2 linked regions of the Homo sapiens genome follow. The protein of the gene in region 1 interacts with the protein of each later gene in a pairwise test. Each region holds a gene or a part of one and is shown on either strand. Other genes may lie near its edges.

What was found.
Region 2: the proteins of WDR24 (region 1) and SZT2 interact in binary tests that used the Homo sapiens proteins (3 or more experiments, as listed by UniProt).

The regions. Positions count from the first base shown.
Region 1 is NC_000016.10:684,104-687,666, reverse strand, and holds the end of WDR24 (GATOR2 complex protein WDR24), read left to right. Parts: coding exon 1-105; intron 106-250; coding exon 251-923; intron 924-1,480; coding exon 1,481-1,599; intron 1,600-1,676; coding exon 1,677-1,798; intron 1,799-1,883; coding exon 1,884-1,988; intron 1,989-2,069; coding exon 2,070-2,410; intron 2,411-2,490; coding exon 2,491-2,675; intron 2,676-2,764; coding exon 2,765-2,933; 3' UTR 2,934-3,045; downstream 3,046-3,563. Other genes in the region: JMJD8 (jmjC domain-containing protein 8 isoform 1 precursor), read left to right, coding at 3,348-3,433, 3,512-3,563. UniProt on the Homo sapiens protein: Catalytic component of the GATOR2 complex, a multiprotein complex that acts as an activator of the amino acid-sensing branch of the mTORC1 signaling pathway. The GATOR2 complex indirectly activates mTORC1 through the inhibition of the GATOR1 subcomplex.
Region 2 is NC_000001.11:43,441,639-43,448,924, forward strand, and holds part of SZT2 (KICSTOR complex protein SZT2), read left to right. Parts: intron 1-47; coding exon 48-180; intron 181-361; coding exon 362-492; intron 493-629; coding exon 630-730; intron 731-803; coding exon 804-980; intron 981-1,180; coding exon 1,181-1,448; intron 1,449-1,549; coding exon 1,550-1,629; intron 1,630-1,713; coding exon 1,714-1,839; intron 1,840-1,958; coding exon 1,959-2,158; intron 2,159-4,255; coding exon 4,256-4,346; intron 4,347-4,540; coding exon 4,541-4,621; intron 4,622-4,703; coding exon 4,704-4,778; intron 4,779-5,316; coding exon 5,317-5,530; intron 5,531-5,906; coding exon 5,907-6,060; intron 6,061-6,137; exon of another isoform or gene 6,138-6,210; coding exon 6,211-6,333; intron 6,334-6,440; coding exon 6,441-6,846; exon of another isoform or gene 6,847-6,973; coding exon 6,974-7,090; intron 7,091-7,286.

The sequences.
Region 1 (3,563 bases):
CGGCAATGTGCAGCTCTGGGACATCCGGCGTCCCGACCGGTGCGAGAGGATGTTCACAGCCCACAACGGACCCGTCTTCTGCTGCGACTGGCACCCCGAGGACAGGTGTGGCATGGGGGTGCAGGGGCAGTAGGTTGACAGTAAGCTCTCACTGCCTCAGATCCATGAGACAGTCCGGAGCAGCAGAGCGGGGGGGTCCCCTCTCTGCAGGAAAGGCCACTGAGGGTTTGGGTGGACCTTCTTCCCACAGGGGCTGGTTGGCCACTGGAGGGCGCGACAAGATGGTGAAGGTCTGGGACATGACCACGCACCGTGCCAAGGAGATGCACTGTGTGCAGACCATCGCCTCGGTGGCCCGTGTGAAGTGGCGGCCAGAGTGCCGCCACCACCTGGCCACGTGCTCCATGATGGTGGACCACAACATCTATGTTTGGGACGTGCGCCGGCCCTTCGTGCCAGCTGCCATGTTTGAGGAACACCGAGACGTCACCACGGGAATTGCCTGGCGCCACCCCCACGACCCCTCCTTCCTGCTGTCTGGCTCCAAGGACAGCTCGCTGTGCCAGCACCTGTTCCGCGACGCCAGCCAGCCCGTCGAGCGCGCCAACCCTGAGGGCCTCTGCTACGGCCTCTTCGGGGACCTGGCCTTCGCCGCCAAGGAGAGCCTCGTGGCTGCCGAGTCGGGGCGCAAGCCCTACACTGGCGACCGGCGCCACCCCATCTTCTTTAAGCGCAAGCTGGACCCTGCCGAGCCCTTCGCAGGCCTCGCCTCCAGTGCCCTCAGTGTCTTTGAGACGGAGCCAGGTGGCGGCGGCATGCGCTGGTTTGTGGACACAGCTGAGCGTTATGCGCTGGCTGGCCGGCCACTGGCCGAGCTCTGTGACCACAACGCAAAGGTGGCTCGAGAGCTTGGCCGCAACCAGGTAGGTAGGTGCTGAGCCTGGGGGTCCCTGGGCCACGACCTCAGGGCAGGGGCTGGTTCCTCCGTCAGCTGCGCTCACCCCACCTCAAGCTCCGCAATGGACTCCAGCCAGTCGCACCAACAGGCCTTGCCTTGGTAGCTGAGGGTGTCAGGATCACACAGGGCCAGGGCTCCAGGGTGGGCCAGACCCAGGACTGTCCTCTGAGGGGCGGGGGTCTCGGGAGTCGTGTGGCTCAAGCTCTCTGTTCTTCCCCCCTTGCTTCTGGAGCTCTCCAGGCACCAGCAGCGGTGGAGCCGTGAGCTGCCGTTCCCATGCCCATCTCTAGCTGCCCCGCAAGTCCCCACTGCCCAATTCTGTTTTCCTCTGTGCTGCTGTAGGGCGGGGACCGGGGTTTTTGTCTTTCCCATGAGCCTCAGCTTTCCTACCTGGGGTGGGCCTGGACATTGGGTACTGAGGGCAGCTGAATGCTGAGGGCTTGTGACTGTCCAGGCAGAGAGGGACCTGCATGGGGTGCTGGGTGTCCAGGACGCCCACAAGTGACCAGTGCCCGCCCCTAGGTGGCGCAAACGTGGACCATGCTGCGGATCATCTACTGCAGCCCTGGCCTAGTGCCCACTGCAAACCTCAACCACAGTGTGGGCAAGGGTGGCTCCTGTGGCCTCCCGCTCATGAACAGGTAGATGCCGGGGGCAGCTCTCCCCAGGGGCTGGGGCTGCTCGAGCCCACCCACCCATGGGCCCTTCCTGCCCCCAGTTTCAACCTGAAGGATATGGCCCCAGGGTTGGGCAGTGAGACGCGGCTGGACCGCAGCAAAGGAGATGCACGGAGCGACACAGTTCTGCTCGACTCCTCGGCCACACTCATCACCAATGAGGGTAGGCTGGGGTGGGTAGGGGTGCTGATGGGAGAGGGGTGGGGGTGTCCCAGACGACCCTGAATGCCCGCCCCATTGTCGGGCAGATAACGAGGAAACCGAGGGCAGCGACGTACCTGCCGACTACCTGCTGGGTGACGTGGAAGGTGAGGAGGACGAGCTGTACCTGCTGGATCCGGAACACGCGCACCGTGAGTGGGGGTCCGGGCAGGGTGGGGTTCAGAGGCGGATGGAGGACAGACTCAGAGCCTCCGCTGGTCCCTGCCTTCCAGCCGAGGACCCTGAGTGCGTGCTGCCGCAGGAGGCCTTTCCGCTGCGCCACGAGATCGTGGACACGCCTCCCGGGCCCGAGCACCTGCAGGACAAGGCCGACTCCCCGCACGTGAGCGGCAGCGAGGCGGATGTGGCCTCCCTGGCCCCCGTGGACTCCTCCTTCTCGCTCCTGTCTGTCTCACACGCGCTCTACGACAGCCGCCTGCCGCCCGACTTCTTCGGCGTGCTGGTGCGCGACATGCTGCACTTCTACGCTGAGCAGGGCGACGTGCAGATGGCTGTGTCTGTGCTCATCGTCCTGGGTGAACGGGTGCGCAAGGACATCGACGAGCAGACCCAGGTGTGTGGTGGGCGGGGCCTCCCCCCTGCAGCGCCGCCCCTGGCACCCAGATCCTGACTGCCGGGCGCTCCCTCCCCCAGGAGCACTGGTACACTTCCTACATCGACCTGCTGCAGCGCTTCCGCCTCTGGAACGTGTCCAACGAGGTGGTCAAGCTGAGCACCAGCCGCGCCGTCAGCTGCCTCAACCAGGCCTCCACCACCCTGCACGTCAACTGCAGCCACTGCAAGCGGCCCATGAGCAGCCGGGGCTGGGTCTGCGACAGGTGGGGCAGTGGGGTCGGGAGGTGGGGCAGGGGCCTGCAGGCAGCGCAGCAGCCCCCGCTGAGGCACCCTCCCTCCCGCCCGCCCCCAGGTGCCACCGCTGCGCCAGCATGTGTGCCGTCTGCCACCACGTAGTCAAGGGTCTCTTCGTGTGGTGCCAGGGCTGCAGCCACGGCGGCCACCTGCAGCACATCATGAAGTGGCTGGAAGGCAGCTCCCACTGTCCCGCAGGCTGCGGCCACCTCTGCGAGTACTCCTGACGGGGCATCTGCTGGGCTTGCCCGGGCGGCCGCGTGCAGAACCCCGCCTGGTCTTGTGCCCGAGACGGGCGGAGGCTGGAACTTGAGACCTCAATAAAGGAAGTAGAGCCGCTGTCGGCACTGCGTGTCACCCCATAGCGCGGCGGGCTCGCCGTAGGCCCGCGGGGCAGCTGGCGGGCGGGGGCTTTCGGCGGGGTTGTCGCCATGGTAACCGGCGGCGCCCATAGTCGCTCTCGGGGCGGCCTTCCCAGTGCCTCCCGTAGAGGCCTCTTCCGGGGCGGGCCAAAGGAGGTCACTTCCGGGGTCCGTCCCGGTTCCCGGCCGTTGCCACGACGACGAAGCTGCCGGCCAATGGCTGGCGGATGGGCCCAAGGTTCCCGGCGTGCAGCGCGGCTGCCTGAGGGCGGCAGGCTCATGGCGCCGGCGTCGCGGTTGCTCGCGCTCTGGGCGCTGGCGGCTGTGGCTCTACCCGGCTCCGGGGCGGAGGGCGACGGCGGGTGGTGAGCGGCCCGGGAGGGGCCGGGCGGTGGGGTCACGTGCGGCGGGCGGGGCGCGGGCTGACCCAGCTGTGCCCGCAGGCGCCCGGGCGGGCCGGGGGCCGTGGCGGAGGAGGAGCGCTGCACGGTGGAG
Region 2 (7,286 bases), on another chromosome or scaffold:
GCCTGGTCTCCATCCTGCAGCTCCACAGTGACTCCTCTGCCTCCTAGGTTGTGCCTCAGTGTCCAGAAGCTCTGCCCACATGGTGTCCCGGTTCCTCCTTCCATCCATCCTGTCTGAGTTCACCGCACTGGTCACCTCAATGGCTGGAGACACCAGTGTCCGCATCTTTGAGCAGCATTTGTGAGTGTAGATCCTATAGAATTGAAGGGAACTCCCCTAGACTTCCTAAAAGCTGGGCCTACAGGAAGCCAAACCTGAGGAAGCTGAGCTAGGAGAGGTGGAAACAAGGCCCAGGGAGGTGAAGGCTAGGCCAGGGAGTGGTGTCATGGATGGCCTTTCTGTCTGTCCTCCCTTTCAATAGGGGTTCAGAGCCAGAGATCTTCGGCCCTTGTTCCCCTGGGCAACTGGGCCCCTCTCCCCGCCCTGCAGCTGAGCGGCATCTGCTGCTTCTGGGAAGGAACTTCTTGCAGTGGAGGAGACCAACACAGCAGGGTGAGGGCATGGCCCGGGGGGGCGGGGGGCGGGTAGGCTAAGAGTAACTGGTGGGGTCTCCAACCTTGCAGAGGGGAGGGTGGGATCAAGGGGGATCTGTTCCCAGGCCCCTATTGTGCCCCTCCCCCACCCTGTAGCTGCCAAAGCCATGCAGCGCTTCGAGCCAGGAGGTGATGGGAGCTCAGGGCGAAATGCTCCCCGGCAGAGGCTCTTGCTACTAGAGGTTGTGGACAAGAAGGTAAATATGGGGCCAGGGACTGGGTGGGAAGAGGGGTTCCGTGATCTCACTGACCCTGACCCCCGACCTCCAGCTACAGCTGCTGACCTACAACTGGGCTCCAGACCTGGGGGCAGCATTGGGCCGAGCGCTGGTTCGCCTGGTGCAGTGGCAGAATGCACGAGCCCATCTCATCTTCTGCCTACTCAGCCAGAAGCTTGGCCTCTTCCATCATTATGGCCAGTTGGACTTCCCCGTGCGAGATGAAAAGGTGCCTGCTGCTCTGGTTCTTCCTATAGTTTTGGCTACTGAGGGGTCAGTTAAAGGAAAAACCAGCTCAGAAGCCAGAAAGATGGGACAGACTGAGGGCAGAGGTAGTGGGGAGGGAGAGTCTGAGAGAGGAAGCCCTGGGATGAGAGAGAGGGTCCGAGGGCAAAGGCTATGAACCCATTGCAATGCTCCATCTCTCAGGAGCCAAACCCATTCCTGCTGCCGACCATGGAAGTGGAGACCCTCATCCGGAGTGCAAGTCCCCCGCTGAGCCGTGAGCAGGGCCGACTGAGTGGGTCCTCTCGTGGTGGGGGTCCTCTTCCCCTGGACACATTCCCCTTTGACGAGGCCCTAAGGGATATCACGGCTGCCCGCCCCAGCTCCGTACTTGGTCCTGTGCCCAGACCTCCTGATCCTGTCACCTACCATGGACAACAGTTCCTAGAGATCAAGATGGCAGAGCGCAGAGGTGAGGGTACTGGGCCAGGCAGCAGGGACAGGAAATCTGTGGAGTCTGGGAGGAAGGGAGTGACAATGCCTGGGGCTACTACTAATGCCCTCAACCCTCAGAGCTGGAGCGCCAGATGAAGATGGAAAACCTGTTTGTAACCTGGCAGCAGCGTTCTACCCCAGCCACCATGCCCATCAGTGTGAGTGACCCCAGCTTGCATCTTCCTTGAGTATCTGTGATCCTGCCCCGTCACTGCTCCATGCTCACTGCCCTGTTTCCCCAGGCTGGAGAGCTGGAGACCCTGAAGCAGTCATCCCGCCTGGTGCATTACTGTGCAACAGCCATGCTCTTCGACCCAGCTGCCTGGCTGCATGGGCCCCCAGAGACCTCTGGACCCCCTGACGGGCAGGTAAGGCTGACTCCCAGACTTCTAGCAGACCTTTGCTTACCCCACAGTGACCCCCCTCCTCCATCCCCAGCAGGATGGTTGACAGTGGGGAGAGTCTTCCTTGATCTTTACTCTCATAGCGGCGCCATCGCCCTGAGTCAGGGTCTGGGAGCCGAGAGGCCCCCACAAGCTGTGAATCCTTGGATGTGTCGCCCCCGGGAGCCCGTGAGGAGCCTTGGCTGAAGGAGCTGAGCTTGGCTTTCCTGCAGCAATATGTGCAGTATCTGCAGAGCATAGGTTTTGTGCTGGTACCACTGCGGCCCCCCTCACCCGCCCGCAGGTGAGCCCGTCCCTGTTTTCCCTTCTGTCTTCTCCTCCTGCACTGCAAGTGAGGCCCCACAGGCCCTTCCTCTCTTTACAAGGTCCTATGTTGACAATTTGGGCTGGGCCTGTGCATGTTTATCCCACCAGGCTTGCACTCATGTGAGGGTCTCAGATACTTTCACACAGCCCTCATGCGTGTCCTGCAGACCTTGTATGCTTTATGGAACTCATGATGACACTCATACAAAACTGTGTCCATTTTCACAAAGCTCATGCCCACACACATCTTGTACACTTACACACTTGCATACATCCCCACATGTGAATTTTTTTGGAGATGGAATCTCACTGTGTCGCCTAGGCTGGAGTGCAGTGGCGCGATCTCGGCTCACTGCAACCTCCACCTCCTGGGTTCGAGCAATTCTTGTGCCTCAGTCTCCCAAGTAGCTGGGATTACAGGTGCACGCCACCCTGCTTGGCTAATTTTTTGTATTTTAGTAGAGATGGGGTATCACCATGTTGCCTAGACTGGTCTTGAACTCCTCAACTCAGGTAGTCCGCCCACCTCAGCCTCCCAAAGTGCTAGGATTATAGGTGTGAGCCATCACGCCCGGCCTGCACATGTGAATCTTGTACATGCTCCTAAGCCTCTGGATCTAGGACTTAATGATTCCTGTCCTTATCATCCCACTGACCTCTCCTGAGATTTGATGTAGTTCTCGGCCCAGGGAAGTCCTTTTCTCACCAAGGACCTCTGTGCTAGGCCTACTTGCATCACTGTCCTTGGCCTGTTCTTGGTCATGTTCACCCACTGGCCAGTACTGACAGGTCTGAGTCTTGGGAAGTAGGCAGCCCGTCTGTTGCCACCTCCATCTCCCCTGAGCTCAGGGACAACTCTGCAGCCACCTTTTCATCCACTGTCAAATCTCAGATTCCCGTGTTTGTGGCCCCTGCTCTATGTTCCTCTCCAGATTCTGTGTTCTCTGCCCTTTCCCAGTGGCTGTATGCGAAAAATGAGCTGTTCACCTTACACATAGCTACTTTCGTGTCTCCAGATTTGTGAGTTTATCAAGGCATGTTCTCCCTCCTCTCTGTTTTCAGTTAGAACCTTTTCAAGCCAGTAGTCCAGAAATGCCAGTTCCAACTCTCTCATGTTTCTGTGACCAGCTCCCCACTCCCCAGGTTTCCCTCTCTTCCAGGCATTAGGAAGAGAAGGCGTGCCTGCCCCTCCTGTGATCCCATCTCAGAGGCCAGGCTGGCCCCTCCTACCCTGGGGAGGAGCTGCCCAGCTTGCTATCTTGACAGCCAGTTCCCAGCTCTAGGAGCTTCTCTAAAGGACTTTAGTTTGCACACTTGCCATAAGTTATGCTCTTTCCCCCAAATCTGAATTCCTTTAGACACTGGGTTAAAAAAAAAAATGTTTCTACAGCAAAATTTAAAGCCAGGTCTTCCCTTCCCACCAATCTTTAACAATCACCAATCACTAAGTCTTGTCCCAGTTTCCTTGAGGTTTAAATGGGACATTTTTTCCACCAGAGGTTTTGACCCCCAGCAAGAATTCTGGCAGTTTATAGCCCCTTGGCGTGAGTGGGTCCCCCCAACCCCTTCTGTTCTGTCCCTTCTTCCCAGTCCCTCCCCTGCTTCCCTTCTCCCCTATCCTCTGCACTAAACTGTAACGAGCAGTAGGCCTCTGAAAGCCTGGAACTGCCATCCCCCCCAATCAAAAGACAGCAGCTTTGCCCTTTCAGAGGAAGGTACCTAACCAGGCATCAAGCATCTCCTTGAATTTTCCTAATCAAATTGTAGACAGGCATCACCTTCCCCCTTCTCTTTCCTGCCCAGCACACACCCTCTCAGTAGCAGAGGCTTAGTCTCCACCTCCCCACTGAGCACTGTTTTTGCCTCCCTTGAAGCAGCAGCTGCTATGGAGAGAGCCCAGCCTTGCAGTCTAGACCTGGACTCCAAGCCCAGCCTTGCCACTCACAGTGGCAGCTTTGTGGGTCTGTTTCCTCCCTTGCAAAATGATTCCATATAAAACAGATTCTGGGTCTGATCACCATGACTGCATGCCACTAGCCTGCCTCATCCTCTTATCCCTCCTCCTTTTCTATAGCACCAGCCGGCCACGGGCCATGGCTATCCTTGGAACAGAGGGTCGAGGCTCCTTCTCCTGCCCTAAAACCAAGACTGATGGGAGCCCCAAGGTAACTTGTCATATAATGGTAAAGTTACTGATGCTAAATTACTTTCCCACGGCCTGAGGTCATTGACCCTGAGTGATGTACCGAGGTCACTGATCCCAGACTGACACCATTAAAGTCAGGGTCCAAGGGACTTCCACCCTACTGATTCGAGGCTGGTGAGCCCCCAAACCTTGCCCCCTTTTTTGTTTCTTCAGAGCACTAGCTCTCCGGTAACCACCTACCACCTGCAGCGGGCACTGCCTGGGGGCATCATCCTCATGGAACTGGCATTCCAGGTAAGCAGGAGGAGCACTGAGTGGAGACAGCCAGACCCACCTGTCTCTCGCCTTCCTGATCTCATCTTCACCTTCCCTCCAGGGCTGTTACTTCTGTGTCAAACAGTTTGCCCTGGAATGTTCCCGAATCCCAATGGGGCAGGCTGTCAACTCACAGGTATGTGAATGAGCTGCGGGCACAGTCAGTGCACCCCAGTGTGCTGTGGGCAGCATGGCTCCATGTCCCATTTGCTGGGCAGTAGAGTAATGCAGTAGGCGGGCTGGCCCAGTGATTGATTCACTGCTATGGCCTGGCTAGGTCAGTGCTCATTCTGGTGCCATGACTGCACTCACTACAAGGCTGACCCCATCGGTCATCCAAAGCGTGTTCAGCTGTAGCCCTGAGGCAGCACAGTGCCTGGTCTGGCCTGTAGTCATCTAGAGTCTGTGGCAGACCCTGATGGAATCTGGGATAGAGCAAAATGGCCCAGTTTCTGAAAATGGCCCTAGTTTCATGGAGATAGTTACAATACAGTATGAAAAAGGGAGGCTAGAATGGGGAGGCCTTCCCACAGAAACCATTCTGGCAGAGGGCGTTCCACTAGGCCACAGCAGCAGGGGAAATCTTGTGCTTCTTCCCACGGAAGGAGGGAAATGTGTTTTGGGCAGCCAGTGCAGCCATACCTTAACCCTGTCTCCTGCTGCTGCCTCCCCAGCTGTCCATGCTGTTCACAGAGGAGTGTGACAAGGTGCGGGACCTGATGCACGTGCACTCGTTCAGCTATGACTTCCATCTGCGCCTCGTGCATCAGCACGTGCTAGGTGCCCATCTGGTGCTGCGGCACGGCTACCACCTCACCACCTTTCTGCGACACTTCCTGGCCCACCACCCTGACGGACCCCACTTTGGCCGCAATCACATTTACCAAGGTCAGTGCCCAAGGGCAAGCCAGTGAACCCAAAAAAGAACAGGCCACAGGTGCCTCCAGGTCAGGGCTGGTGGGACCACCTCCCTGGACAAGTGGTCCCATGTTGTTAATCATCTCATGTCACACATACCACGTCCCCATGTTTCTGTCCTGTGTCTGTTTCTTACCAGAGTTTGGACCCCATGTCACATGTCCCCTGCCCTCTGAGTCACTTCTGTCCCATCTCAGTGTTCCACAGGAATGCAGGAGCTCCTAAGGAAAGCAGACCCACTCTGCCTGCCAGTCAGAGCCTTAAAGACTCCCATCCCTGTGCCCCACCAGACCAGTGTGTCTGTCCTAGGCTTAGTGTCTGCTGTCTCCTGTTACTTATCCCTCAGGGACATTGGAGCTCCCCACACCACTCATTGCTGCCCACCAGCTATACAACTACGTGGCTGATCACGCCAGCTCTTACCACATGAAGCCATTGCGAATGGCCCGGCCAGGGGGCCCAGAACACAACGAGTATGCCCTGGTGTCGGCATGGCACAGGTAAGGCTGAGAGGGGCATCCAGCATGCACGCTGCAGGAGCTGGGGTTGGGACATACTTGCAGTAGGGAGACCAATGTTTTCTTGGGCAGGGGTGAGGTTTGTTTTATTAGAACCCCAGAGTTGACATCTCCCCAACCCGTCCTGCACAGTTCTGGCTCCTACCTGGACTCTGAGGGACTTCGACACCAGGATGACTTTGATGTGTCTCTGCTTGTCTGTCACTGTGCTGCACCCTTTGAGGAGCAAGGAGAGGCTGAGCGGCACGTTCTGCGGTCAGCAGATCCCCTACCTTGAACATGCCCATTTCCCAGCCTGCCCCACCCTGCCCTGTGTGTCTCTTGCTACAACCACCACTCTCCTGCCCTGCTCCCCACCCCAGGCTACAGTTCTTCGTGGTGCTCACCAGCCAGCGAGAGCTCTTCCCCAGGCTCACTGCTGACATGCGCCGCTTCCGGAAGCCACCCAGACTGCCCCCTGAGCCAGAGGCTCCTGGGAGTTCAGCTGGCAGCCCTGGGGAGGCCTCAGGGCTTATTCTAGCGCCTGGACCGGCTCCTCTGTTCCCACCACTGGCTGCAGAGGTGGGCATGGCACGAGCACGGCTGGCTCAGCTGGTGCGGCTGGCTGGAGGGCACTGCCGTCGGGACACCCTTTGGAAGCGCCTCTTCTTGCTGGAGCCACCGGGGCCTGATCGACTGCGGCTAGGGGGGCGCCTGGCCCTGGCAGAGCTGGAGGAACTCCTAGAAGCAGTCCATGCCAAATCCATTGGGGACATCGACCCCCAGCTGGTAAGGAACTGTGGGCTCCCGAAAGAGCTGGGATAGGTGCCAGGAATTCCACTGGCAGCCAGGGCAGAGGGCACAGGAATCTGAGGTGACTGGCACAGAAGACTCAGGCCTGTGGCTCCTCCCTCAGGACTGCTTCCTATCCATGACGGTCTCCTGGTACCAGAGCCTGATCAAAGTTCTCCTAAGCCGCTTCCCCCAGAGCTGTCGCCATTTCCAAAGCCCAGACTTGGGAACTCAGTACCTGGTAAGTCCCCTTGAGCTTCCTCTGAAAAGGGAAACACAGCAGAAATCCTCACCAAACAGATGTGCCCCTCAGCCTGACCAAACAAGCTCTGCTCTGGAGGGAGGCCTAGACAGAACGGGACTACACAGATACATGTAAAACCCTTCCAGTACCGGGCATCGAGCTACAGCATGTGATTCTCTGAGCAGCTCTGCCC